Linked DNA regions of Homo sapiens: all the other regions are linked to region 5. The links come from fine-mapping of genetic effects on gene expression. A gene starts in region 5. Each other region holds a variant in brackets. All regions are shown on one strand. Distances are from middle to middle. Region 1 overlaps ARID1A (AT-rich interaction domain 1A). Region 2 holds the start of ARID1A (AT-rich interaction domain 1A). Region 3 overlaps ZDHHC18 (zDHHC palmitoyltransferase 18). Region 4 overlaps ARID1A (AT-rich interaction domain 1A). Region 5 holds the start of ZDHHC18 (zDHHC palmitoyltransferase 18).

Region 1 (5,694 bases), 65 kb after region 5:
TTCAGCCTGGGGAACAGAGCAGGGTCCTGTCTCAAAAGACCCCAAAATAAAACACCCCACAAAACCCCTTTTTTCGACAGTCTCGCTCTGTCGCCCAGGCTGGAGTGTGGTGGCGCAGTCTTGGCTCACTGCAACCTCTTCCTCCTGGGTTCAAGTGATTCTCCTGCCTCAGCCTCCCGATAGCCGGGATTACAGGCGTGCGCCACCACACCCAGCTAATTTTTGTATTTTTAGTACAGACGGGGTTTCACCATGTTGATCAGGCTGGTCTTGATTTCTGACCTCATGATCTGCCCGCCTTGGCCTCCCAAAGTGCTAGGATTACAGGCATGAGCCGCCACGCCCGGCCAAAAACCTGTCTTTTATAAAGCTCATTACATATGATGTTTAGTCACGTGAAATTTCAGACCCATCTAAGGTATGTAAGAATTAACACTTCATACACACACACCCATTTTCCCCCCCTGGTTTAGGTCCAGAAGCATCTCAATAATCTGAGTGGGTCTATAATACATTTTCTTGCACTGACACCCTCTCTGCTTCCCAGGCCTTACCTGTTTTGGATAGAGTTGGCAGCAACATGCATGGCGACAGCAGTTTCTTGGGTTTTCCGGTTCATGCCCCCTGGTGGGGGACACATCCCTGACCCAACCTGAGGTGGCATATTGGCCATGTTAGGGCCATAAGGCCGGTTGCCCATGGAGGCGTGACTCATCCTCCCTGGAGGGAGTGTGCCATAAGGTGGGATGCCAGGCTGTCCATGCATTTGACCTCCGGCACCCATGGGGTTTATGCCTCCAGCCATGCCTGCACTGGGGTAGTTGGCATTGGGCAAGGCATTATAGTTTGGCTGCCTGGGGTAGCCACCTGGGAGGGGAGGAAGACAAGACTTGGTTAGTCACTCACTAGCAACTCACTAATATCTCTCAACTCTAGAACACCAAACAATGTCATTCAATATTTTGGTTAGGAAAGAGATCAACTTCATGGTAGCCTTTATCGCCATGAGAAAAAGGGGGGGATTCCAGAAGCATGTAAAGGCAGGTCAGAGCAAGGCTGGCTTTGCTGCCACACAGGCATTTCAACTTCCAGAAGAAGATAACTTCCTTTCTATTTCCATGCTCTGTGTAAGATTCTCAACTTTTGATCAGCCTAGGGCTGCAATTTTGAGCAAAGATCTATTCCATTATGACTTATTCACTAAAAATAATTAATAAAAAAATAATAACCAAGAGCTACCATGTATAAATTGTCTGTGCTCAATGGTGGAGTAAACACCTAATCTCCATTTTTATAAATGAAACAGAGGCTCAGTGAAATTGAAAGACTTTCTCATGGTGACAGAATAAGTGGAGACAAATGGAATCTTGCCTTGCCCTACTTCAGGGCCTGGGCTGGGTGGATTAAAGGCAAAGGACAGCCCTTCTCTCACAAGGTTACAAGCTAGATGGCAACATATCAGACAAGGAACTGTTTTCTCCTCTCACCCGTATCTACTCCTAACTGGGTAGTATACTGACCTTGTGGGCCATACTGACCCCCCTGGGGACCATAGCTCCCCATGGAGTTCTGCTGGTAGGAGCCCATGCCTGTGTGTATCTGTCCTCCGGAAGGCTGACGCGGAGATAAGGCTGAGCCGGGCTGGGGGGAACTGTACTGGGGCATCTGGGGGTTCCTCTGCATATAACCTATTTGTGGGTAGCATCCATATAGTTATTAGCTTTATACAATGCGAACAAATGCTCTCCATCCTTATCCTGGGACTTTACCATCTACATTTTCTTTAGCAGCCACTTGCATGGAGTCTCTATCTGATTTTCTATATAGTGGTGTGTCATTTTAGGCACCTTCAGAGTGACATGAACCATTAACCAGGGCATGCCAGCTGTTTCTACTAAATGGAGGTTTGAAAAGACAAAGAACAATGACAAAAACCAAAATGAATGACTTGATGAGTGAAGACCGAACATTGAGTCTTCAGCAACTGCCGACCAAATGAGGCAAAATGTAAGGGGGCAACCATCAAAACACAGACAAGTACTGTGAAATGGAGACATTAACACGGCCAAGCCCACTCTAACTTCACAATTTGCTGCTGGGTCTCAGCACAAAGAAGTAATAAGTGTTTGAGATTATATATCTGCTAATTACCCTGATCTGATCACTATACGTTACTTCTATTGAAACATCATTATGTACCCCATAAATGAGTACAATTATTACGTCAACTTTTAAAGAATATAAAAACAATTTGCTGCAGGGATTGTCCTAAGCTTCATGGTCAAACAGCTCTCCAAAAGCTACTGCATAGGGCACTCAAATGTCTGCCCTAGCTCCCTGCCCCTCCCCAACACCCAGGCTCTCACCTCGATCTTGGGCAATGCTTGATTGGTTCATGGAAGGATGCATGATGCTGTCCGACTGGCCACTGGGTGGCCGAGGTGGCATCTGGTTGCCTGCTCCAGACAAAGAACAACATAAGCATATCATGGCTAAGCCTGGGAATTCTAACTAGGAAGTTAATTCAGAGCTAGAAATGGCTCATGAAGAGGCCAAGTACCTCCCAGTATCACACACAAAGAGATCCAGCCAACAGGTTCCAATCTCCTTCTCCAAATGCTAAGGGGAAACTATGCAGGCATGAGCCAGAGATGCTTTCTCTGCCAGTGGAAGACTAGGGCTCCTTAATATTACTGGGGGCAGTCACCTTTCCCTCTCCCTAAAGCCCAGCACTTGAGGGTACCTGGCACTGCAGCAGGCGAGAGTGGTCCTGAGCGAGACTGAGCAACACTGGCGGGAGAGCCAACAGGGGACGGGGAAGGGCCTCGGATGCCAGGCAGGTGAGGGGAGGTATGAGGAGAGAAAGGAGACTGAGCTGGATTACTCTGCTCTCCTTGGCTGCTGGAAATCCCTGATGTGCTCACTCCAGGACTCAGAGCTCCTTCTGTCCCCATGGGGAGGTCATCTATTGAACCAGATAGATCCTAGAACATATATATAAGAACATGGATTAGTAATATTAGGCAGAAAGATTCTACTTTCAATAATCCTACTACTTGCTTAGCATTTTCCTTAAACAACCAAGAGCAAATACATCACACACGTTCTTTAGTCATGATACTATTTTTATTAAAAAAAAAA[A/T]TTTTTTTTTTTGAGACAGTGTTTCACTCGTTGCCCAGGCTGGAGTGCAATGGCACGTCTCGGCTCATCGCAACCTCTGACTCCTGGGTTCAAGCAATTCTCCTGCCTCAGCCTCCCGAGTGGCTGGGATTACAGGCAAGCACCACCACGCCCGGCTAAATTTTTGTATTTTTAGTAGAGACGGGTTTTCTCCATGTTGGTCAGGCTGGTCTTGAACTCCCGACCTCAGGTGATCCACCCTCCTTGGCCTCCCAAAGTGCTGGGATTATAGGCGTGAGCCACCGCGCCCGGCCCTAGTCATCATACTATAACTTACATATGGCAAACTCTGTTAAGGACCAGGTGGAATATATATTAGACCTTTGTGGGCCATAAAGCCTCCTTCAAAACTACTCAACTCTGACACTATAGTGCAACAGTAGTCAGACAATATACAAACAATGGTGTGACTGAGTTTTGCTGACTCCTATTCTATCCCCTCAGAAGCAGATCTAGCACTTTTGTCTTCTTTCCCAGTCATAACTTCTACAGTCATAAGAAAGCAACTATTTCAGTGAGGCTTTAGTTCTTTTCTAATAGCAAAACTTTACAAAATGCTGCCAGGATGGCACCAGGAGCTACAAGAGAATGTTAACAAGTTTGGGAAACATTTATAGATCCCCTCTCCTTCTATTATATATTACAATGATGATTATTACTATAGATTATCACAGCCTCCATTTGCCAAGGACTCACTCCAAGTCACCATACTTTGCAACATAAGGGGTAGGAGGTAAGAAAGAGAGACATTGGATGAGAAAGACAATTTCTTAACTGCCAAGAAGGTCTGGGACTACACTCCTAACACCTGGTCTATAACAGTAATCAACAAATGTTTGCCAATTGAACAAATTCTGTTTTTTTCCCAGCTTTTATGTTTTTCAGTGAGAACTTGGTATTTGTTTGTAGGCTTTGCTTGTCTTCAGTTAATCAATAAAGAGTTCACTCTAGGTCAACAAACTCCAGTATTAGCAAACAGGAGCTCAATATGAAAAATATTCACCCCAGAAAATGTACCCTAACTCCATCCCCTGCCCCATGTTCATTCTCTAGCAACATTACTTCAGGCTGGGAACTAACTGTAATTGAAGAAAGGATGAAAACCCTGATACTTAAATGGTAAATAAAGAGTTCTCTTAAAGAAACACACTGGGCCACGCGCAGTGGCTCATGCCTGTAGTCCCAGCCTTTTGGGAGGCCGAGGCGGGCAGATCACTTGAGCCCAGGAGTTCGAGACCAGCCTGGGCAACGTGGCAAAAACCCTGTCTCTACTAAAAATACCCCCAAAAATAAGCCAGGTGTGGTGGTGTGCAGCTGTAGTCCCAGCTACTTGGGAGGCTGAGGTGGGAGAATCACTTAAGCCCAGGAGGAGGAGGCTGTAGTGAGCCGAGATTGTACCACTGCACTCCAGCATAGGTAACGGAGCAAAACACCATCTCAAAAACAAACAAACAAACACACAAAAACAAAACCGAAAACACCACACATCTCAAGGAGGAGGAGATCCAAGTTGGTTTGATTTGAGTCTATTCCTGCTCACACAAACAAGCTCACCCGGGAAAGATCGGCTGAAAGTGACTTTGACCCTAAGATCTGACAGTTAACACTGGAGGTCAGAGGGCAGCTTTTAGGCTCTCCTTCAAGTATCCAAGCTGGGTGGACCTTCCACAAACCACTTGGGTACCTCATTAGGCTGGGAGCATTTCTGCTGAGCTCTTGGAGACAAAGTTTGCTCTGAAGGCAGGTAGGTAGGTGTGCATTTGTGCCTGTGTCCAGCTTTCCATGTTAGCTGAGAAGTCAGAAAATGCTAGCTTTCTTGTTGGTAAGAAGTAGGCCAGGTATGCCATAGCATACTTTAAAAATGCAATGAGAATTCGTTCCAGCATAGAATGATTTCAAGAGGCCAACCACAAGGTAACAGCAAAGGACATCCTCCTTTCTCGAAGGACTAAAGTACCTGGAGCTATGAAGAGCCCCATGTTAATCCCAAGATAGAGGGATTACATCCTTGGTTCTTCTTCTTCTTTTTTTTTTTTTTTTGAGACAGGGTCTCACTCTGTTACCCCAGGCTGCAGTACATTGGCATGATGCCAGCTCCCTACAGCCTCAACCTGCCCAACTCAAGTGATCCTCTTACCTCAGCCTCCTGAGTAGCTGGGACTACAGGCACGCACCACCACATCTGGCTCTGTATGTGTGTGTACAGGCAGGCGCCACCATGTCTGGCTGTGTTTGTGTGTGTGTAGAGAAGGGATTCTGCCATGTTGCCCAGGGTGGTCTCAAACTCTTGGGCTCAATCCTCCCACATTGGCCTCCCAAACTCCTGATATGATAAGCATGAGTCACTGTGCCCAGCCCCATCCCTGTTTTGATGGCTAAGTTATACCATGGACATCTAGCCTCTGAGCCAAGAACAAACTAAAAGAGGCAGCAAGATGACAAGGAGAGCCACTGTAAGTAGAAAGGGTCTCAAGAAGCACTCGTTAGGCCCTACAGTCTATATAGCAAATTCCA
Region 2 (5,694 bases), 130 kb after region 5:
GACCGGGCTGCCCTAGGTGAACCGCAGCCGGCCTCTAGCAGCTCCCAAGCAGTCCCCTGCCCTCCCCTCGAGGTCCCCTCGAGCTCTAGGGGCCCTCTTTGAAAGCACAGATGGGGGGCGGCCCAGAGGAAGGCCGGGGGACGGAGAGGAGCGGCAGGTGAGCAAAGAAACGTTCATTCAACTCCTGGGCTCCTACCACTGCCTACACTCCTAACCTGAGCCCCCAGCGCCCCCTCACCCCCTCACCCCCGGCCAGGCCCTTCCCCGCACACTCTGCCCCGCACCCCCATCAAGACCCCTGGAGTTCGAAGGGACCAGGGGAGAGGAAAAAGAGGAGCAGACACCTCTGGAAAAACCCAACACAAAGGCTGAAGGAGGGAAGGAGAGGAAGGCAGACAGGCAGCCATTTTAAGAGAGAAGAGCCAGACAATGGCAGCTCCCCAGCAGTGGGGGCCCGGGACTGAGGGGAGCCCAAGGCTGTGGCCCGCTCACCGCAGCCGCCACCCACCCCCAGGACCACGCTCGCCCCAGCCCCCTCCCCACTCAGCTGTGTACCTGAGGGGTCCGGGCGAGCGGCTGCCCCCCGCCGCCGCTGCTCCCGGGGCTCATGGGCGCGTGGTGGCTCCTTTGTTGGGCCCCTCCCGAGGCGGCCGCCGCCGCAGCTGCCGCCGCCGCAGCCCCCCAACACTGCGAGGCCATGTCCGCCGGGCCCTTGCCGGCGCCCCCGTCCTGGGGCCCGCCACTGTAGTCGCCCCCGGGGTAGCCCTGGTAGCCCCGGGCCGAGCTGGGCGACGTGAGCAGTTGGTTGAGGGTGGGGGTGGCGGTGGGCTGGGGAGTTCCCCCGCCGGCCGCGGAGGGGCCGCCTCCCCCCATGGCCCCGAAGCGCTGCTGAGCGAAGGACGAAGACGACGAGGAGGCGGAGGCGCTGGAGGAGGGAGGCGGCTTGGAGCCGGCAGCCGCCGCCGCGCCGGAGCCCGGAGTGCCACCTCTCGGGGAGCTCAGCGCGTAGGCCGGGGCGGGCGGGGGGTAGGCGCTGCGGTTGGGGTAGTAGGAGTTGTACTGGTGGTTGGGGAAGCCGTGGTCGTGAGAGTTCTGCTGGGGCCCCGCGTAGGGCTCCAGGCCCCCGCCGCCGCCGCTCTGCAGCGCTGCCAGGCCAGGGCTTTGTTGTCCGCCATGTTGTTGGTGGAAGACGGCGGCCGCGGCGGCGGCGACGGCAGACGGGCTCCGGCCGTAGGGTTGCCCGAAGCCGTAGGCTGGGGGCGGCAAGGCGGCCGCGGCTGAGTGAGGAGGCGCCCCCACCCCATCGCTGCTGCCGCCACCGCCGCCGCCGGGCGGCTCCGTGAGGTTATTGTTCAGGGCGGGCCTAGGGCCCGCGTTCCCGTTCGAGTTCTTCAGGTCCGGCTCCGCGCCGGGCCCGCCGCCGCTGCCGGCTCCGCCGCCGCCGCCACCCCCATTGCTCTCGGCCCCGTCCTGCAGCTCCTTTCCCAGCGGCTGCGGCGGCCCCACGGCGGGGCCCTCGCTTTCCTGCCCGGCGGCTGCCTTCATTTCCCCGCGCTCGGCCGCTGCCGCCGCCGCCGCCTCGCCCCCCGCCTCCTCCCGCTGCTGCTGCTCGGCTTTCTTCAGCTCCGAGGGCGGCGGCGGCGGCGGGTTGCCCAGGCTGCTGGCGGCGGCGGGGGCGACCTGCGCGGCCATGATCCCCGCTGTCTCGTCCGCGGAGAGACCCGGCCCTGTCTTCGTCTTCTCCCCCCCTCCCACCCCGCCCCGGGGCCCAGTCCCCCGGGCTGCCCTCCCCACCCGCCCGGGCGGGCCTCGCGGGGCTCCGCTGCTGCGCTGCGCTCGCTCCTCTCCCCCCCGCCCCGCCGGCTCAGGCTCCGGGCTGGCGGCGGCGGAGGAGGAGGAGGCGGCGGCGGCGGCCGAGGCGCCGGCGGCTCAGCTGCTCCCGGCTCTGTAGGCTCGGGACCCGGCTCTCCCGGCTCATTCCCCCCAAGCCCTTGCCTGGGAATGAGGGGGGCGGTGGAGGCTCCGCTCCCCAGGGCCTGGCCCCGCTGTGACTCTCCGCTTTCTGCTGCCGGAGAAAGGAGGAGGGAGGGAGGGAGGGAGGCGAGGGGGAGGGGGCGGGGAGGGAGGGAGGGAGCGGGGGGAGGGGGACCCGGGACGGGCGGGCTGGAGGGCGCGCGGCAGCAGCCGGGGCGCCGGGAGCCAGAGTCAGAGCGCGGGCCGAGCCCGGCGCCCTGCCTCCCCTCGCCAGCTGCGGCTTGGGTCGAGGCTGCTGCGCGGCAGCGGGCGGGCGAGCAAGCGGTCGGCCGGACTGAGCGGCTAGAGCGCCCCACTCTCCTCCGAGTCCCCCTCACTCCGACACGAGGCTCAGCACTGCCATTTTACCCAGCGCCGTCGCGGCCGCCTGGCAAACCCGGAGTGGAGAGCGGAGCGGGCGCAGGCCGTGGAACGGACTCGCTCCCTTCCCTTCACAAAGGAGGAGGGGAGAGAACAAGCCGCGGCGGCGGCAGGCCCTCAGCCGCTTTCGCTAGGCAGCGCCGCCGCCGAAGGCTTCGGAGAAAACCCGGCCCGGAGCCCGCGCATCTCTGGAGCCTGCGCCGCCTCCCTCCCGGCGTCCCTATCCAGGTCTGTCCCCTCCCGGCCGTACCGAGGGGAGCGGGCAGCGTGAACTTTACCCGCGGCTGCAAAATTGGCCAGAGCCTGAGACCGCGGCCGCCTCGGCCCAGCCCTGACCCCCTGGCAGCGGGCCCGGTCCGTTGGCTGCTGCTTAGCACCTCTACAGCACTTTTCGTCTTCAAAGCCTTCTACGGACCCCGCTAAAGACCCAACCTTTTTTACCCTCTTTGCAAGCCCGAAAGAATGACTGATCATTGTTCAGACGATTCGTTTCCCACTCGCCTGCCCT[C/T]ATTAGCCGGTCCTTACAAGGCTCTGGGGGCATGAGGTCCGGATTATCCCCATTTTACAGAATTGAAAGAGAGGGGAGGGAACTGCCTGTCACTTAAAGTCAGAGGGCAGAGGAGGGTGACTTTAAAAAGAAGTGGAGTCACCAAAGCTGCCTTCGGTCTACTTGCCTTTAAAAAAAAAAAAATCAAGTTGTGAGCACATTCAACAATGGGATCAGAATATCAAAATGGATTTGAAGTCAAAACTGATCATCTCACCACTAACTTAAAATGGAGGCCACTGAAGTTGCTTTAGGAGCATAGAACAGTTACCCAGCAGGAAAACCTAAACACCGTTTCTCACTCCCTCTTAAGAAAACTTAGCCTACCATGACAAGTAGCCCCAGTCTCCAAAGACAGTACCTTCTAATACTGAAAACCCACAGAAGAGGCTCCAGGGACTGCAGGAACCTGAGTGTTCAAACCATTACAGAAGAGAGATGCAGAAAATGGAAACCATTTTCTCCTTGAAGAAAAGGCACAGTCCAACAAGTCACTTAGAAAATGGATGCTTGTCAGATTTGTTTTCTATCCTGTAGCGTAAAGATTGTTTAAAGTTTACCATTACATTCTAAGAGACCCCGATTGAGCTGGAGTTGGGTAGAAGGCCAGGTTTATCTGAAAAGATCGACATACACAGAAAGCTCCAGTGTTCTCCTGATCTACAGGCCCCACCAAATCCCAGCAGCAGCCTTTTCTTCCTCAGGCTGACTTGGAATGTTCTGATATGACAGGCTACAAAAGCCAGAGGGGATTCCAGCTCCTCACCAGACCCAAGGCTGCCTTGGGAAAGGCCCAGGCCAGTGTTCCTAGACACCAGGATCTCTTTTCCCCCTCAGATTTTGTAAAGGGAGACTTCATGGCCACAGGAGCATTATCTTAGATTATGCAGGACCCGGGAGTGCTGGCAATGTCCCTGGTCACTATGAATAATTCCAAAGCCTGAACTCATTTCTCTCCCCAAGAAAACTTACTGCATCCTACACCAGAAAGGCAAAACCTTCCTGTTAATCTAAGAGTGATGAGATTTAAAAAAAAAAAAAATCCCACAGTTTTATTCTTCTCCCCTCCCCCGGCCTCAAGCCAAGAACCAAACCAGCCTACCAAGAAGATCCGACTGACTGGTATGGGCCAGTGCCCTCTTTTCACTCACAGTCCTCAGGGGCAACAACTCTCCCCGGTGCATTAGGTCCTAGAAACCAAATTATAGGCTGCCTCATAAATAGAGCTTGGCTATTTAATCAACTGCCCCTGAGCTGGCAAACAGTCCTGAGTCCTGCACACAAATGAGGATTTTTTTACATGCCATTACTCTGCCATTTTCCTTAGAGCTGGGGTGTAATGGGAAACCTGGAGCCCAGTGAAAATCTGGAAGCTAGAATGGATTTCTCTCCAAAGAAAGCCCTCATCCCCTTTCTTCAATGGCTGTGAAATATGGAAAGCGCCAAAAATCTCCTTCCCTACACGTGGGCAAGCTGTTTTGAAAACAGTCACCATTTTTCTCTAGCAATAAGGTAAAGTGCACAAAAATCTATCCACCTGGGTTGGAGGAGATAATGTGGAATTTCTCTACTTTTTTTTTTTTTTAATTCACTAGGGTTCTCTTCCACTTTTACTTTTAGAGCCCCACACCACGATCCCAGGAAATGTTGGGCTGAGGGAACTTTTTTAGAAACTGGCCCATCAGCTTTCCCTAGGGGCAGTGGCAACGGGAAAGCGGGGGAGGGGAGGAGCTGGGCACGTGGCTGGCCCGAGCAGCGAGACCCCGGCTGGGGGCAGTGGGTCCTCCCTTCGGTGGAGTTTTTTCCCCCACGGCCCCTGCCTTTTAACCCCACACCCAGGCAGCTCAGGAATCCCGGCGCAGATTGGAGAACTAGGACTAGGACAGCGCTACCCTCGCGAAAGCACCTCGGCCAACAGCCTGATGGCAAATATGGACTGAATCGTTGACATGGAAACCGGACTAAAGTCTCGCTAGCTCTCCCTCACAGGAGAGTTCTTATCGCCGTCCCCGACCGCACGGCACTTAGCAAACGCGGACTGGATTTGAGGCCTGGAGGATCAGGCGGAGTTTCTGGGCGTATTAACTCCAGCGGCAGAGCAGCCAAGGAAGGGGGCAGGGCTGCCAGGACAAACCGGCTGAAAATGGCAGAGGATGTGCTCCCATTTTATCCGGCTGCACAGCGTGCATGGATTGGGCCCGAGGACAAGGGAACAACCTATTAAAATCCAGAGAGTCAACTGCAAAATGTGGAACCGAGGCCTGGAGGGTTTGCTAGGAGAGGGAAACGTTTGCAGGGAAGACAGCCCTTCCTTTCTCGCAATTTGCTTCCCCTAAATGTCTGAAATACAAAACTCAACAAACAAACAGAAGATCGGGCTCGGCTCCTTCCTCCACCCAATCCTTGTGGGAGAAGTCGTCTTAAGCCCAGGGACCCTAGCGAGGGTTTGCTTAGATTCCTAACTAAGGCGTGGAGAATCGCTGGAGCGCCAGGTTGTTGCCCCCACACGTTCCCGCCGCGGAACAGCAGCAGACACCCAGCAGAGCTCTCTCGAGTGCGAACTGGAGCTGCGAGTTTGAGCAAAAGGGCAACTATGTCAGTTGACGGAAGCCAGAAGCAGAGTTCAAAGCCTGGCGTGGATTTCCGTCTGGAGCTGTCTGTTCTTAAAGTTTGTAACTCCGTGTTAAGAAACAGCCCCAGCGGAGGCTTTGGGATCGGTGTGAAAGTCTAGCACTACCATCTGACAGCGAGCT
Region 3 (5,694 bases), 29 kb before region 5:
GCTGGGTGACCTTGGGCAGCTCCTGTTTCTTCCTTGAGTCTCAGTTCCCTCATCTGTAAAAAGGCTGACATCATCCTCCTCACAGGTTAAGATGAGAAAATGGGCCCGGGACTCGGCAAGCCCTTGCTGAACGGTAGCGGTAGCTATTTTTTTAGCCCATAGTACAGTGTATGCACATGTGTGTATCTTGATGTAGTGCAGCAACTGGGGAGAGAGAAGTTTCCATGAGATCGTTACCCTGGGCTGGGCTCAGTTCATGGGTATGGCAGTCCCAAACTGGAGTTAAACCCTCTGTCTCAGCCTGCACTGGGACCTATCAGAATCCAGAGGTCAGCTAAGGCTGGGTGGTGTCTGGAATTGAGACCAAGAGTTCTGGAGGGGCAGAGTGAAAAGGATGTCAGCCACTTTTCCTGTGTCCCTCCTGGCTTCGTTGTGCTTGTAAATCTCCAGAGCAGCACTGGCCAGCTGGAAGAAAGCTGGGAGCGAGGGGGAGCCATATGTTCCACACGCCCACTGCAGGTCCCATCCCTGGGCCCCAAAGTAAAGGCGCCACCAGACAGCCAATGGTATGGCAAGAAGAGGGGAATCTTTATTTTGGTTAAAAAAAAAAAAGGTACAGGATAGCAGACAAGCAGCCCCCAGCCCTGGGCTCAGCTGATTTTCCTTGGCTCAGCTCTTTCCTTTAGTCCCCTGAAGTGTATGGGGCTGTGCACGGCTAGCTTGGTCCCTCAGTGCCTAGAGCAAAGGAGGCACGCACCCTCCCTACATCCTACCTACTCTGGTGGAGGGTTGGGGGTGGGAGGTGGACAGGCCGTGGGAACAGTATCAAGCCAGTTGTGCTTAGAACAGTCACCAAACTTGTTCAGCAGCGTCATCCACCATCAACACCCCAGACAGCTCCTGAGGAAACCTGCTGGGCTTGACTATGGCTATGCCTGATCTGAGGGGGTGGAGGGGCAGGCTCTAAGGCCAGATTCCTAGTCTTGACACCTCACAAATCCGGGAAGGGGAAGTCAGTGGAGGAGAGAGGGAGCATATCAGCGTAGAGTCACATTATTGTGCTGATGGCTGCGTTATGGCTTTCTACACTCTGGCCGGCATGGAGCGGGAATGGGGCAAAGAGGCCAGCCCCTGCCCCCTATGGGGGTCCTAGAGAGCACACAGGCCGGGCAGGCTGGGGGGCAGACCCTGTAGGCACAGATGGTGGCAGATGGGCCACAGGTTAGGCAGGTGGAGGTGCCGGGTGCCTGGCTCCCCCCAGGCCATTCCTGGAGAGGCAGAGAGCAGCGGTCCTCAGGAGGTCCTTAAGCCCCCGCACACACTGGAGATCCCCGGCAGGACAGCAAAGAAGGAGAAGAGAGAGGGTTAGCAGGCCTGGGAGGAGGGAGGCGGCCTGCAGGGGCCCCGGTGGTGGGGAGAGGTGCTGCCACAGCACCTGCCTCTGCCCGAGAGAAGGGCCAAGGCTTAGGCAGCAGGCAATGAAGCAGGAGAGAAAACGGGCGGGTGAGAGAAAGCTCAGCGGGGACAGAAAGCCAGGACATAAGAGTGTTAGTGACCGGTGGCCCCTGCATACCAGGACCCCACCAGCACAGACCCAAGCACCTCAGGGCAGGTTCGCCATCCTCTCCCCAGCCTCACCCTCCACCTCCTCTTCCAGCTGGAGAGCTGCTCTGCGAGAAGCTACTTCCTCAGTCCACAATGGGGCTGGGCTTTTAGCCTTGCCCTATATCCCGATCCTTCTGCTTAGCGGGGAGTCCCTGGAGACCCTACCACCACCAGCACACACACCGCACCACACACCAGACAGATGGACGGGCTCCATGGGGTTGGCGAGGCATGCGATGAGGATGAGATGGTGTGTGAGGGGAGCGGGCAGTGCTGGCCGACAGGGAAGAAACGGTCTTACCAGCTAACCCTCTGCAAAGAGGCCTGTTAGCTCCCCTCAGGCTGTGCAGGAGATGGCAAAATCCTGACAGGTGTCCTCCTGAGGGAGATACCAGAGAGGTGGGCCAGTGTTATGAGTTGTCTGGCTGGGCCCTGGTGCCCAGGTTGGAGGTGGTAGCCAGGGAAGCTCCGGCTCTCAAACTGGAATCTACTGTCTCAAACATTTTCTTAGCTGGGCACTCATTGGGGATCGGAGTGGAAAGGCAGTAGGGAAGAAGAATTTGGGGGTCTCCAAGCCCCTGAGGCAGGGGAAGGTGGAGGGGACAAAGAGGGGACAGGATGGCCTCTTTTCACGTGCCCATGGGGGCTCAGCCGCAGCCCTCTCTGCTCTTCCTCCAGCGGACAGAGCTCCAGCCAGGTGAGGGAAAATGTAGCCAGATCACTGGGCTGCCTGCCTTCTCACAGTCTCCCCAGGAAAGAACCAAATTTGTCTGAAAGAACAGAGGGCTCCCAGTTGGGGCCTCAGCAAAGGAAAAGCAAACAAAAACCAAACCAAAGCAAAGCAACTCTTATAAACTGAAGTTTTATTACAAGCAGGAACAAAGAATACTGGCTTAAATAAAAGGTAGGTGGGAGCCCCCTCCTCTAGCCAGCTTCTTCCTCACCTCCCAGGGCCACTGCAGTGATGGCCCAGGGCCCTGAGGCTGGGGTGAAGCTGTTTCTCCCAGAGGGGACCCTCTGTGGCTGCCATTCCCAGCTGTCTGTGACCACTAGCCTCTGGAGTGAGAAGGGCAAGATCTGGGGACTTCCTATGTCACTTTCCAAGGGCTTCAGCCCACTTGAAGGGCCAAGGAGGGGGATGGTGGAACAATATCTATTTTGATAAGAAACTACAGCTCCCAGCAGAGGAGAAACATCCTCTGAGTTTCCGGCCCAGACTCAGGCCAACCTTCACTTGCCTCTTGGCCCACCCTGCACCTTCTTCCTTTTCTCTGGATGGAGGTCCCCGTTTGGCAGAAACACCTTGTCTTCCAGCTCCTGGCACTGGGTCCCATATTCAGAGCTCAGAGGAGGGGGTGTGGCTTGTAGGATGGCAGCCGCTCCCCAGAGCCATCACCCCACCCACCACGCCCAGGCTCAGCCTGTCTGGGCAGGTCCCAGCTGGAAGCCTCACCTGGGGGCTGGTGGGTAGGGCTGGGGGTAGAGTGGCAGAGTCCCCAGACACTGGCTGTCTGAAGTCCATAGAAGAAGGAAAGATAGGAGGCTGGGCTGAGCCCCAGTGGGAGCCCAGGGTTTTCTCGTGACCAGTGCACGTGCCCCCTGTCCCCTTGGCTCAGAGTGCTTCTGA[C/T]ACTCAAAGGGGATGGGGCAGGGGGCAGCCCAGGGGATATGGGAGCCAGCCACATTCATACAGGGCACACATGAACACACACACACATGCACACACACTCTCACTCATTCCAGCCAGAAGGTCTCTTGGAATAAACTTATTAAAACCAACCAGCCTTCTGATAACCCTTCACCTGGCACTACACAGACAGTAATGTGGCTGACATTTTCTCCTTCCATTTAAAAAAGACTATGTAGAAAAGAGGTCTATAAAATTGTGCAAAATACCCAGCATTAATAAACCCGTTTCAAGTATTGCCAGCATGAGCATAACCCACCCATGCCGGGACCTGGCTTGGGAGAGAAGTGGAGGGGCAGGCTGGGATCCCTTAAAGAGCTCTCCATGGGCAGGGGAAGGACCAGGCTCCCACTTCCACTGTGCTGCCCAGGAACTGCACAGGAGCTGAGGCTGTGGGTGCCTGGCTGGCTGATTTACCTTTGTCTGATACAGGCTGCCCCCACCCACCACCAACCCTGCCTTCTCTACTGGAGCCCCAACTCAATCCTATTGGCCAACTCCATAAAAAAGGGGGGAAAACCCCACCAAAAATCCCACAGAATAAAGGGAAATTATCACCAAGGGAATGAAGGAGCCCACAGACCAAAGCAGCCCATGGAGGCTTCCTCTCCACAGCCAGCTATCCAGAGCTGGCCACTCCTCAGTCCTGCTTCACCCTGAGGACCCTGGCTCAGCAAGGCCCAAGCAGTTCCCCCACCTGGGAGGCCTCACGCTCAGTTCACAGCCTCACTCACACAGGGCTCGCCCGGCACAGGCAAGGACTTGGTGTGGTCCCCTGGGTAGCCTCCAGAGGCTCTGGTCTCTCCTGGCACTGATCAGCTGGGGTACCTAGGGCCCAAGGCTGTGGGAACCTGGGTTTGGGGAGCAGAGGGCACAGCCACGGAACAGTTCAGGGAAAGCCACGCAGGATGGGAAATAAATATGAAAAGACTTGAGTCTTTGGCAGTTCTGCTTCCCTTGGATGGAATAGGGAGGGTCCCGGCAGGTGAGTGCGGAGGGTCAGACAGGCCAGCAGGTGGCAAGTACTGAGCCGTGGTCAGGGGTGGCCTCCTACCATGCTGGCATCAGGCTTGGCTCTGCAGGCTGGCTCATCGCTTCTGATGGGTGAGGGCAACACGGTGTCGGACTGCACAAATCCCCTCCGGTCAATTAGGCTTCCAAAACACAAGGGAGACACATGAGGGCTCTGCCCAACACTGAGGCTCTAGGCCAGGGGTTGGACGGCAGAGTCTATCTCAGCCAAGGAAAGGCCCAGGCTGAGAAAGGCTGAGGAAAGGAGAGCTGCTGCCCATCTGGGGGCCCAAGACTCTTACCTCTGGCAGGCCTCTCTCTGCCCTCTGGCCACCTGGCTTTTGGCCACAGAATTTATTCACTATTAATTCCAACTGGCCCACCTGTCTGGCTGCCAAGAAGCCAGGCTGCAGGTGAGGGAGGAAAGCAAGGATGAATAGGTATTTGATGACTATGAAATTCCTATGTTCCCTTCCCCTCTAGGCAGGCTGGGTGACAGGGATACTGGGTGGGGTAGGTGACATGACTGTGTGGGAATGACTTGTCTTAGCAGTACCCACAGCAATGTAATCCCCGTTCTGGAACTCTGGTGCCCCCTGGTGTCAGGATGAACAGGGAGTGACCCAGCAGGGCTGAGTCCCCAGGGTTCCTACTGCCAGGAGAGGATGGAGTCGCCACCCAGTCCAGGCAGTGGGCAACCGGAAGGGCAGTGTCATTCAAACATGGCTGAAACAGTCATGGTGGCTACCCCCGGGGAGTAGAATTACATGTCATATCCAATGCTCCTCTGTTTTACGTTTTGTACTTAATTTTTTTTTTCTACAATGAGCACGTGATTAAATAACAATTCTCCATGGAATTCCGTCACATGACAAATGCCCTCCAGGGGGTAGTGGACGGAGGGCATCTAGGGTGTAGGGGGAGGTCGGCTGATATCCAGGAACACTTTGATCACTGGCCAGGCATGGCCCTGTTACCCCTCTTCCGCACCCCGCTCACTTACCTGGGAGGTAGGGGGCCACAGAGCACAGCACAGCAGTTGGTGATAATACTTTTATGGCTGTAGGGGTTGACAGAGGCCTCACCGCCCCTCTTGCTGGACCACGAGCCTTTGATCTGCAAGCAGGAAGGAGGCCTAGGTCAAGTACCTCCTTTTGCTTCACTTTTCTAGGAGGCAGGTCTAGAGGCTGGGGACAACTGGACAATTCCGAAACCAATTCTGGTTACAGAAGGCGACATGTCTTTCATGTGGGCCATTCAATGAGAATGTGGGGGACCCCTGGCAGAGATCAGGAGGCCCCAAAGAGGAGATGACAGAGCAGAGCCCAAGAGAAGCATCCAGAGGAAACGTTTCGGATGACTCCTCCCTTCTCCGGCCAGCCACTTCTGAAGGA
Region 4 (5,694 bases), 120 kb after region 5:
AGATCAAACTGTAGTCTCCTCCTGGAAACCACTGCCTTCATTGCAGCTAGGTCCCAGTGATCACAGCTACGCTTCTCAGGCAGGAGGAAAAAGAGGCCTGGTAGCAGAATACTTGTTTTTAATGGGAAGGACAGAGAAACCACATAAGGTGTTCAGAAAGTCCAAATGAATTAGAACACTGGTTCTTCACTTGGTCTTCAAACTGTTAATATTTATCACCTGACCACTTCTGTAACTCCCACATCTGTGCCAAGCACAATCCTTATTCATTAAGTTATACAACTGGAGACAGGTCTTGGCTCAAATGTCCACCCCTCAGAGAGTCCTCATTCACTGCAGAGATGAGGTGGCTTGTTCAGGAATCTACTTAGAGGGTTTATTTTTATTTGAGACAGGGTCTTGCTCTGTTGCCCAGGCTGTATGTAGTCCAATAGCACAATCAGGTCTCACTGCAGCCTCCAATAAACTCCTGGGCTCAAGTGATCCTCCTGCCTCAGCCTCTCAAGTAACTGGGACAATAGGTGCATGCCACCAGGCCCAGCTAATTTAAAAAAAATTTTTTTTAAGAGAGACAAGGTCTTGCTATGTTGCCAAGGCTGGTCTCGAACTCCTGGGCTCAAGCAATCTTCTCATCTCAGCCTCATAAAGCACGGGGATTACAAGTGTGAGCCACTGCTCTCGGCCTACTTACAGGGTTTATTTACTAAAACTTCACAAGAAGAGACACAAGGAAAGGAATTCACAGCAAAACTCAGACTGGCCACTAAGAAGTAGGGGGTGAGGGAGAGAGGTCAATAAAGGCTTACTGTGAGAACACCAAATCACCCAACGCCCTGTTCTCAGATCAGACAGCCATCACAGGCAAAAGGGACATCATGGCATTTAATTAGTGCTCCAACACTGACCTTTAAGTGGCATTTTCAAGAATCACTTTCTTGGAAAAGTGTACTGTATTGGCCATACTTGGAGACCACCACAGTCAAGATCCTATTTTTTTTTCTGTATATAGACAGGGTCTTGCTGTGTCACCTAGGCTGGAGTGCAGTGGTGCCATCATGGCTCACTGCAGCCTCAGCCTTCCTTGCTCAAGTGATCCTCCCATCTCAGCCCCCACGTAGCTGAGACTACAGGCGCGCATCACCATGCCTGGCTGATTTTTTTGTTTTTGTAGAGATAGGGTTTTGCCATGTTGCTCAGGCTGGTCTCGAACTCCTGGGCTCAAGCAATCCGCCCAGCTCAGCATCCCAAAGTGCTTGGATTACAGGCATGAGCCACCATGCCCTGCCAGTCAAGATCTTAAAATACCTTTCCCACCTTCATCAAAATCCCAGGACCACAGGTCCAGATTATCTTCATGCCATATTGCCGAAGAACTAAGAGAAAGAGAAATGGAAGGCAGGGAGCCCCCAAGTCCTATAAACAAGCAGACGTGTTTTGTGACTAGAACTTATCACTGCACTAGTAAAGGTCCATCTCAAAAGTATTTTCTTTCTTCTCCTGTTACTGGCTGAATGTTTATGAAACCCTGAAATTAATGTTGAAGCCCTAACCTCCAACGTTACGGTATTATTAATAGGAGGTGGGGCCTTTGGGAGGTAATTAGGGTTAGATTAAGTCATGAGGGTGTGCCCCCATGATGGGCTTAGTGCCCTTATAAGAGCAAGAGCCGGGGGCGCTGGCTCACGTCTGTAATCCCAACACTTTGGGAGGCTGAGGTGGACAAATGGCTTGAGGTCAGGAGTTTGAGACTTGCATGGCCAACATGGTGAAATCTCGTCTCTACTAAAAAATATATATAAATAAATAAATAAAATTAGCCGGGCGTGGTGGCGTGGACCTGTAATCCCAGCTACGAGAGGCTGAGGCAGGAAAATTGCTTGAACCCAGGAGGCGGAGGTTGCAATGAGCTGAGATTGCACCACTGCACTCCAGCCTGGGTGACAAAGCGAGACTCTGTCTCAAAAAAAAAAAAGAGCAAGAGACATAAGAGGCTAAGAGGGCATTAATTGGGGTGGTAGACCGGCAAGAAGACAGAAGACAGTTGCCTACATGCCAGGAAAATGACTGTCACCAAGAACCCGATCTGCCAGCATTTTGATCTTGGACTTCTCACCCTCCAGGACTTCAAGTAGTAAATGTTTGTTGTTTAAGCCACCTCGTCTATGGTATTTTGTGACAGCAGTCCAAGCAAACTAACACACTCCCCTAGCCTCAAGCATTTTAACCTTTTCTCCATTCATTAATACTTTTTTCATAGGAGGGCACATAGACATAAAACATCAATCTATGGTATAATTTAGAAGCAGCCCCTCAGGTAATCTGGATATACTCTGCAGCCCAGTTGAGTGTAAATGTATAAATCTAGTAGTTCTCAAACTTCAGTGTTCATCAGAATGGCCTAGAGGACTTGTTAGAACATATTGACAGAGTTTTGGATTCGATAGGACTGGCCAAGGGTCTGTGCTTCTTAACAGGACCTAGTAATGCTGATGCTGGTGGCTAGGGACCACACTGAGAACCACTGCACTAATCCACTTCTCAAGCTGGAACAACAAGTG[G/CTG]TGTGTGTGTGTGTGTGTGTGTGTGTGTGTGTGTATGTATTATTTTATTTTTTGAGATGGCATCTCGCTCTGTCGCCCAGGCTGGAGTGCAATGGTGTGATCTCGGCTCACTGCAACCTCTGCCTCCCAGGTTCAAGCGTGATCTCGGCTCACTGCAACCTCTGCCTCCCAGGTTCAAGCGATTCTCCTGCCTCAACCTCCCAAGTAGCTGGGACTACAGGCATCCGCCACCACGCCTAGCTAATTTTTGTACTTTTAATAGAGACGGGGTTTCACCATGTTGGCCAGGATGGTCTCGATCTCTTGACCTTGTGATCCACCCGCCTTGGCCTCCCAAAGTGCTGGGATGGCAGGCATGAGCCACCGCACCCGGCCTGTGTGTTTTAATGCACTGATAGGCCGGGTGCGGTGGCTCACATCTGTCATCCCAGCACTTTGGGAGGCCCAGGTGGGTGGATTACCTGAGGTCAGGAGTTCCAGACCAGCCTGGCCAACGTGGTGAAACCCCGTCTCTACTAAAAATACAAAAATTAGCCAGGCGTGGTGGCACACGCCTGTAATCCCAGCTACTCGGGAGGCTGAGGCAGGAGAATTGCTTGAGCCCAGGAGGCGGAGGTTGCAGTGAGCTAGATCATGCCACTGCACTTCAGCCTGGCCGACAGAGCGAGATTCTGTCTCCAAAAAAAAAAAAAAGTAAGCAAGCTAGCCCTGATAGCTGGCATAGTGACATGTGCTTGTAGCTCAGCTACTTGGGAGGCTGAGGAAGGAAGATTGCTTGAGGTCAGGAGTTTGAGAGTGGGCTATGATTGTGCCTGTGGATAGCCACTGCACTCCAGCCTGGGAAACAGAGAAAGACCCTGTCTCTAAACAAATTTTAGTTTAAAAAAAAAAAAAAAAAAAAAGCATTACAGTAACTCAGATGTAGCTAAAAACTAGGGAAAATTTTGAATTCGGTAAAGACCAATACTAGCTTTAACCACTCAATTCTATCTCTCCTGAATTGAGAAGCAGGGCCAGTGGGAACCTGGGGTCCTGGGTCGGGGGTGCTGTTGAGAACTTCCATGGTAGTGCTGCAATCTTCCTACATCACCCTTCTGGCCTCCTGGCTGGAGCAGGGTGGTAGCATTCCAGGGGTGCTGGGTGCAGGGGAGGAGAATGTGAGGTAGATTGGTGGATGCACAGGAGGAAGGTGGGAATAGTGGTATCAACTCTCCTGGAGGCTTGCTTCTGAAAAGGACGGCTGGAGAGTGGGAGAGATAGTTGTGGGATTGACCAATCAGGAGTCATGTTAGAATTGTATTTGATAAACGAATAGTACTTTCACATATCTAATATTTACCATAGCTTCAAGGTAGATATTTTTCCTCATTATATAGTTGAGAATACAGATTCAGAGAAGTGACTTACCTAAAGTCATACTGCCCTAAGAGAACTTTAAACCTAGGTTTTAGAGATGACTCTGCTATGAAACTTTGTATGTGGCACTCAACTTTATGTGTTCATTTCCCCCAAGTGGCAAATTAAGACAATAATCCGCTGGGCGCGGTGGCTCACACCTGTAATCCCAGCACTTTGGGAGGCCGAAGCGGGCGGATCACGAGATCAGCAGACCGAGACCATCCTGGCTAACATGGTGAAGCCCCATCTCTACTAAAAATACAAAAAAATTAGCCGGGCGTGGTGGCGGGCACCTGTAGTCCCAGCTACTCGGGAGGCTGAGGCAGGAGAATGGCGTGAACCCAGGAGACGGAGCTTGCAGTGGGCCAAGATCGCGCCACTGCACTCCAGCCTGGGCGACAGAGCAAAGACTCCATCTCAAAAGAAAAAAAAAGACAATAATCCCTGCCTCTTCAGCAAGTGCTCCAAGTTTCTGGAAAAGTAATATCACTCTGCATATACTTTCATAATTCAAGTCACTTTCACTCAGATCAAAGTGAAAGACTCTGGCTGGGTGCGGTGGCTCGCACCTGTAATCCCAGCACTTTGGGAGGCCGAGGCAGGTGGATCACAAGGTCAGGAGTTCAGGACCAGCCTGACCAACACAGTGAAACCCCATCTCTACTAAAAATACAAAAAATTACCTGGGCGTGGTGGTGGGCACCTGTAATCCCAGCTACTCAGGAGGCTGAGGCAGAAGAATCACTTGAACCCAGGAGGCAGAGGTTACAGTGAGCCGAGATCACGCCACTGCAATCCAGCCTGGGCGACAGTGCAAGACTCCGTCTCAAAAAAAAAAAAAAAAAAAAAAAAAAAAAAAAAAAAGTGAAGGACTGTATCTTAAAGGCTGAATCTCACTCTCAACCCCAAAAGATCCCTCTTGAGAAAGAGAGGACCGGGGACCAGAGGACCAGATGCTGCCAGTTCTCACCAATGGAATCACAAGGCAGCTATAAACCAAGTGCCATGGCCATTCATCGGAAATCCAAAACAACAAAACCCTAAGTGGAAGGGATGGAAGGGAATGACAGGACAGAGCTCTAGGCACGATGTCAAATTGTTAACTAATGGCTTTTCAGTCTTTCACCCCATTTAAGAGTTTCAGGCTATTGTAAAAATAATGTCCTAAACAATCTTGGTGCCTGAGTAATTTATTTTGGAGAAGCAAAGTTAGTATTTTAGATTGTAATACCTTTGAAGAGTCAGACAAACCTTGTCTACCTTGTCAGACAAACCCAACTCTACCTTTTACCAGCTATTTTCCCTAGGGCAAATTTCTTATCTTACTCTATTTCCTCATTTGTAAAAGAGGAAGATTAATAATAGAACCCACCTCCTATACAGTTTTGAAGATTAAATTAGGAAATTCATCAAGAGGACTAAGCATAATGCTTAGCACATAATAAGTACTCAAATGCATGGTGGCCATCATTTGAAAGTCAGGATCCTTGCCAGGCACAGTGGCTCACGCCTGTAATCCCAGCACTTTGGGAGGTCAAAGCCGGCGGATCACCTGAGGTCAGGAGTTCGAGACTAGCCTAGCCAACATGGTGAAACCCCATCTCTACTAAAAATACAAACATTAGGCCGGGCGTGGTGGCTTATGCCTGTAATCCCAGCACTTTGGGAGGCCGAGACGGGTAGATCACGAGCTCAGGAGTTTCAGACCAGCCTGGCCAGCATGATGAAACCCCATCTC
Region 5 (5,694 bases):
CAACCACGGCAAGTACTGCTTCCTCCTGCCTCGGCTGCAGCCCTGGGTGTGGGGACTGAGAGGGCAGCCCAGGGGATACTAGAAAAGGCATTTCCAAAACACTCATGTGGCCAGCCCAGGGAAGTGGATCTGAAACTCAGCCCAGAGCTGAGCTCTGGGCCCCCCAGAGCTTCTGCTTGTAAATCATCCCTGAACTTTTTATCCACCCTACTCAAAAAAAAGGGCAGAGTGTGTGGTTAAAGGGTAAAGGGAGAAGCTAATTTATAGGAAGTCTTCACCTTGCTTCAAGGGGAAACCCAAAGTTGCAGATACATGATCTGGCAGCTAGAAAGGGTACCTGGGGGCGGGTGTCTCTATGATAGCCTTACCATGGCCACATGCCCTTGGGAAGTGTTTTTTGATAAAGACAACACAAGTACTAATAGCAGCCAACATAGTGTGCTTGTTACTGGGCTAAAAGCTTGCATGTGTGACCTCATGCCACCCTCAGGACAACCTTACGGGGTGGGTACTATTATAAATCCCATTTTACTGATGAGGAAACTGGGGCACTGAGGGGGTGAAGTGACTGCCCTGAGGTCACGCAATTAGTGGGTGGTGGAGCTGGGATTTGAACCAGGTCTGTTAGAGTTCTTAACTACACTGTATAATTAAGAGGAACAACCACAAAGGATGGGGAGTTGGGAGGGGACAGCAGGGCTTATGAAGCAAGGGTGGGTGGGTGGGCGTGTGAGTGTGTGTGCAAGGAATCACAGTGCAGGTGGCTCAGAGGTGGGTGGAAAACTTCTAATACAAATATATGACCCTCCATCCATAAAATGGAGATTATGTGTGGGCCAATCCTGGGTCACCGGGGGATATGAAGAGGACAAAAACCTAGGGGGGCAAATATGACCTGTCACACGAAAGCACTCCGAAGTCTTTCCTGAAAAACAACAAGGCACCGCAGCTGTTGCTGATGTGGAACAGGCCAGAGGGACGTTCCAGAATGTTGAGCAGGGAAAGAAAGCCAGGTGGTCAGCAGGGGGGCCAGGGGCCTGGGAGCCGGCTGGGTGGAGGCGGGCGGGATCTGAGGGAAGGACAGGAAGCTCTGGAGAACCTAAGGAAGGTTCTGGAGAAGGAAAGGGGGCCCGAGAGGCCCAAAGATTTTGAGAAAAGATGCCTTGGGGCCTAGGGTGTGCGTGGCTGAGGGGAAGCAAAAGCGGGGTTGGTGTCTGAGACTAGAGAAAAGGAGGGGACCCTGGAGGGACCCGGAGAGGGCAGCGAGGATGACTAGGATGTTTATGGTGGGTGTGCACAGCCAAAGGACACACAAGATCTAGAAGTGGTCAGGAAGGGATACAAGGGTCAGAAAGAACTTGGGGGGTTGGCAAGAGATGGTCCAGGGATGGGTGAGCAGGAGGGGCCTGTTCAAGAAGCCCTGGGGCAGGTTCTGAGAGGGCAGCGAGGATGGGGGCCGTGGAGGGGCATGGAGGCTGGTGTTCCTGGCAGTGGCAGGCAGACAGGTGCCAGGGTGGGGTCAGGGAGAATGGAGGGGCTGGGAGGGTGGAGGGCACCAGCGCGGATGGGGTACCCAAATGGACCAAGGAGGATGGGGCATCTGGCGGGGATGGGGGTGCGCAGGGGCCAGGGGGGCAGACAAGAGGCCCGAGGAGGATCCCAAAGGGGCGGGGAGGATGAGGACCAGGGAGGCGAAGGGGAAGGCACGGAGTGCCCAGCAGGGATTGGGAAGGTGGGGTGCGCGGCAGGGGGCTGGGAGGGGGCGCCGAGGCAGCGGAACTCACTCAAAGACGAAGAAGAGGCCGGTGGTGGTGAGGATGAGCAGCAGCGTGAGCGCGAAGACGCCGCCGTGGCCGGCCAGCATGAGGCGGCCGCCGCAGTAGAAGCGATTGCGACCCGGGAACACCTCCCACTTGCGCCGTGGGCGGCGGCCGAGGCTCCCGCTCCCGCTGCCGCTGCCGCTGCCGCTGCTGCTCCAGCGCGGCGGGGCGGGGGCGGCGGGCGGCGCGGGCCCGGGGCCCGGAGTCGGGGACGCGGCGGGGCCGGGACGGCGCGCCCCCGGGGAGGCGGGCAGCGGGGCGGCCCCGGGGCTGATCTGCTGGTACTCGCAGTCCTTCATGCAGCCAGCCGCGGGCCTCGGCTCCGCGCCCCGCGGGCCGGCCGGGCCACTCCGGGACCGGGCCGAGCAGCGGAGGTGGCAGCGGCGGCGCGCGCGGCGCTCGCTCGCTCACTCACTGGGGCGGCCCCGCCATCGCTCCGCCCCCGGCCCGCCGCCACCGCCCGCCGCGGCCTCCCGCCGCAGCGCCCCCTCCGCCTGGGCCCGGGATGGCGCTTGGCCGGAGGCCCAGCTCTGACCCGCGGCGGGGCCCCGCAGGTCCCCGGCCCTCCCAGTCTCCCTTTTCCCTTCTGCACAAAGAGGGGGCCAGCAGACGCGCACTCGAGGGCTCTTTCTGTTCTGCAAGCAAGCCGTTTGTTGGGCGTCCACTGTGTACCAGGCACGGTGCCAAACGCCGAGATTCAGGTGGTGGACTTCGTGATCTACTTCTGGCAGTCTGTAATTCCCCAGGCTTCGCCCATCTCTGAGGGTCGAACTGACAGGCATTTGCAGAGGCAGGCAGGCGCGGGGAGGTGGGGCACACGATTTGCTTTGAAAGCCAGGACCTCTTCTACCTTGAAGTCCAGAGTGCCCACTGGAGGTGTGTGGCACACCCTCTGGCCTCGTTCACCAAGTTCTGTGTCCTGGGCCCAGGCCCAGATTTTCCTAGGTAGCACATAATGTAGAGGGGTCATGCCTGAGGGCCCCAGTGTTTTTTCAGGAATTCTGGGAGTATTCATTTTCTACTGCTGTGTAACAAGTTACCACAAATTTAAGGCTTAAAACAAACATTATCGGCCGGGCGCGGTGTCTCACGCCTGTAATCCCAGCACTTTGGGAGGCCGAGGTGGGTGGATCACAAGGTCGAGAGAGACCATCCTGGCCAATATGGTGAAACCCCGTCTCTACTAAAAATAAAAAATTAGCTGGGCATGGTGGCACGGCATCTATAGTCCCAGCTACTCGGGAGGCTGAGGCAGGAGAATTGCTTGAACCCAGGAGGTGGAGGTTGCAGTGAGCCGAGATTGTGCCATTGCACCCGGCCTGGTGACAGAGCAAGACTCCGTCTCAAAAAAAACAAAAAACAAACGTTATCTAACAGGTTCCAGGTCAGGAGCCAGAGAACAGCTTAGCTGGGTCCTCTGCTTAGTCTCACAAGGCTGCAATCAGGCTGCATTCTCATCTGGAGACTCAGCCAGGGAAGAATCCACTTGCAAGCCCATTTGGGTTATTGGCAGAATTAACTTCCTTGCGACTGTTTAACTGAAGAGGGCCTGGGATTTTTGCTGGGTGACTGTATAACTGAGGAGGGCCTGGGATTTTTGCTGGGTGTCTGCTGGAGGCCTCTCTCAGGATCCAAAAGCCACCTGCAGTTCCTAGAGATTATCACATTTCCTTGCCATGCAGGTTTCTCCTACATAGCCACTTAGTTTCTTGAAACTGACAATGAGGGTCTCTAGCTCCAGACTATGATGATAGAGTTTTATATAACTTACTATATATGTGACAGAGTGGCATCCCATCATCATTGCCATCTCCTATGGTTAAAAGCAAAGCACAGGAGCCATCTGCACTCAAGAAAAGGGAATCACACAAGGCGTAAATACCAGGAGGCAGGAATCATTGGGGGTCAGCTTAGGGTATGTCTGTCACACTGTGGTTACTGTAAAACCTAAGGAAAAGTGCAAGGAAAAAAAGAACTGGAGACTAGGAGAAAGTAAAAAAGGAAGTAAAAATATACAATGGGGAGGAGTAGGAAGCCGACAACAGTGACCTTAAGGATCAATAATTGATATATATGCCAAAGGCTGCTCAGCCGTGCCTTTGGTGCCAAAGGCTCTCAATATGATGAGCCCCATCTTGAGCAAACCACATGGTGAGCTTCCTCCCTTTTTGCTCCTTGGCTGTGGAACAAAGTCACAAAACTAGACATACTGGTTCCAGTACAGATTCCTGTTGTCCCACCTTAACTGGGTCCTCTTGCAACCTGAAACCTTTTCTTTTTTCTCGTCACTTTACAGAAACCAAAGCAATCCTACTGGATTTTCAGTTTACCTCCTCTCTATCTCATAATTTCTCTTTATTTGCATCTGTCCTTTCTTCTTTTTTAGAAGATGTGGGCCTCCTTCTGTCCATGGCCAACCCTCCACTCATATCCTTATTTTATTTTATTTTTTATTTTTTTGAGATGGAGTTTCGCTCTTGTCACCCAGGCTGGAGTGCAATGGCATGACCTCGGCTCACTGCAACCTCTGCCTCCTGGGTTCAAGTGATTCTCCTGCCTCAGCCTCCCAAGTAGCTGGGATTACAGGCATGTGCCATCATGCCCGGCTAATTTTTGTATTTTTAATAGAGACGGGGTTTCACCATGTTGGCCAGGTTGGTCTCGAACTCCTGACCTCAGATGATCCGCCTGCCTCGGCCTCCCAAAGGGTTGAGATTACAGGTGTGAGCCACTGCACCTGGCCTCTTTTTTTTTTTTTTTTAAGTAAGGCTGATGGAACTCCATTTTATTTATTTATTTAAGCCCAATAGAACTCCAAACTCATGTCCTATCTCTCTTCCTGTTCATTAATACCGCAAACACATGCTCAATTCTACATCAATTAAAAAGCAAGGCTGGGCGCAGTGCTCACATCTATAATGTCAGCATTTTGGGAGGCCAAGGTGGGAGGATTGCTTGAACCCAGGAGTTCAAGACCAGCCTCAGCAACATTGCGAGATGCCACCTCTACAAAAATAATTAAAAATTAGCTGGACATGGTGGCATGCACCTGTAGTTCCAGCTACTTGGAAGGCTGTGGTGGGAGGTTTGCCTGAGTCCAGGAAGTCAAGGCTGCAGTGAGCTGTGATTACGCCACTGCACTCCAGCCTGGTGACAGAGCAAGACCCTGTCTAAAAAAAAAAAAAAAAAAAAAAGCCAGGCGTGGTGGCTCACATCCCAGCACTTTGGGAAGCCGAGGCGGGTGGATCACAAGGTCAGAAGTTCGAGAACAGCCTGGCCAACATGGTGAAACCTCATCTCTACTAAAAAAATACAAAAAATTAGCTGGGCATGGTGGCATGCGCCTGTAATCCCAGCTACTCGGGAGGCTGAGGCAGGAGAATTGCTTGAACCTGGGAGGCGGAGGTTGCAGTGACCCGAGATCATGCCATTGCACTCCAGCCTAGGCGACAGAGCAAGACTTCGTCTCGAGAAAAAAAGAAAAGAAAACCCTAAAAAACCCAATGGAGCTTCCCATGGTTGGCTACCTTCTCACCTTAGTTCAGATTTATCTTTCTCATTATCATTAGGATCATATTAAAGAGTTGCTACCAGGCAGGGCATGGTGGCACATGCCTGCCATCCCAGCACTTTGGGAAGCTGAGGCAGGCAGCTGGCTTCAGCTCAGGAGTTCGAGATCAGCCTGGGCATCATGGCAAAATCCCTCATCCCCTATGATTTCCTAACTTTTTACAAGTTGGCCCCTGTCTACATCACTCCCCTAAAACTTATCGTAAATGTCACCAATGAGCCATTTAATGTAGTATAAACCTCTTGTTCTCACCAATACCTATAGTTCCCGGCTTCTTTAACAGACAGATGTGGCCATGCGAAT

What was found.
Region 1: its variant is fine-mapped to the expression of ZDHHC18 in blood mononuclear cells (TOPMed, PIP above 0.99).
Region 2: its variant is fine-mapped to the expression of ZDHHC18 in whole blood (TOPMed, PIP above 0.99).
Region 3: its variant is fine-mapped to the expression of ZDHHC18 in whole blood (INTERVAL, PIP 0.95).
Region 4: its variant is fine-mapped to the expression of ZDHHC18 in whole blood (INTERVAL, PIP 0.92).

Annotation. Positions count from the first base shown.
Region 1 is chr1:26,758,146-26,763,839 of GRCh38, reverse strand. ARID1A (AT-rich interaction domain 1A) reads right to left here. Exons shown (of 20, transcript NM_006015.6): 5 at 2,744-2,984; 6 at 2,367-2,456; 7 at 1,521-1,688; 8 at 555-867. Among named protein-coding and RNA genes, the nearest start is that of PIGV, 27 kb to the left of the region's middle. The variant A/T (reference allele first, on the strand shown) is at 3,142.
Region 2 is chr1:26,692,402-26,698,095 of GRCh38, reverse strand. ARID1A (AT-rich interaction domain 1A) reads right to left here and starts at 2,081. Exons shown (of 20, transcript NM_006015.6): 1 at 556-2,081. The coding sequence starts at 1,692. LOC124900417 (translation initiation factor IF-2-like) reads left to right here and starts at 1,691. Exons shown (of 2, transcript XM_047439473.1): 1 at 1,691-1,879; 2 at 2,131-5,694. The coding sequence starts at 1,691. The coding sequence ends at 2,817. LOC101928728 (a long non-coding RNA gene) reads left to right here and starts at 3,965. Exons shown (of 1, transcript NR_135804.1): 1 at 3,965-5,694. RefSeq lists silencers at 468-1,067, 1,118-1,447, 1,818-1,977, 2,068-2,397 and enhancers at 1,376-2,311, 2,312-3,248, 5,081-5,180, 4,897-5,411. The variant C/T (reference allele first, on the strand shown) is at 2,903.
Region 3 is chr1:26,852,475-26,858,168 of GRCh38, reverse strand. ZDHHC18 (zDHHC palmitoyltransferase 18) reads right to left here. Exons shown (of 8, transcript NM_032283.3): 7 at 5,304-5,416; 8 at 565-4,443. The coding sequence ends at 4,326. Among named protein-coding and RNA genes, the nearest start is that of SFN, 7.8 kb to the left of the region's middle. RefSeq lists silencers at 3,017-3,189, 4,762-4,821 and an enhancer at 4,436-4,937. The variant C/T (reference allele first, on the strand shown) is at 3,233.
Region 4 is chr1:26,707,393-26,713,086 of GRCh38, reverse strand. The region is part of intron 1 of ARID1A (AT-rich interaction domain 1A); the gene reads right to left. Among named protein-coding and RNA genes, the nearest start is that of ARID1A, 14 kb to the right of the region's middle. RefSeq lists an enhancer at 5,172-5,671. The variant G/CTG (reference allele first, on the strand shown) is at 2,559.
Region 5 is chr1:26,823,230-26,828,923 of GRCh38, reverse strand. It overlaps ZDHHC18 (zDHHC palmitoyltransferase 18), which reads right to left and starts at 2,236. Exons shown (of 8, transcript NM_032283.3): 1 at 1,785-2,236. The coding sequence starts at 2,119. RefSeq lists silencers at 1,969-2,178, 2,189-2,338, 2,302-2,454.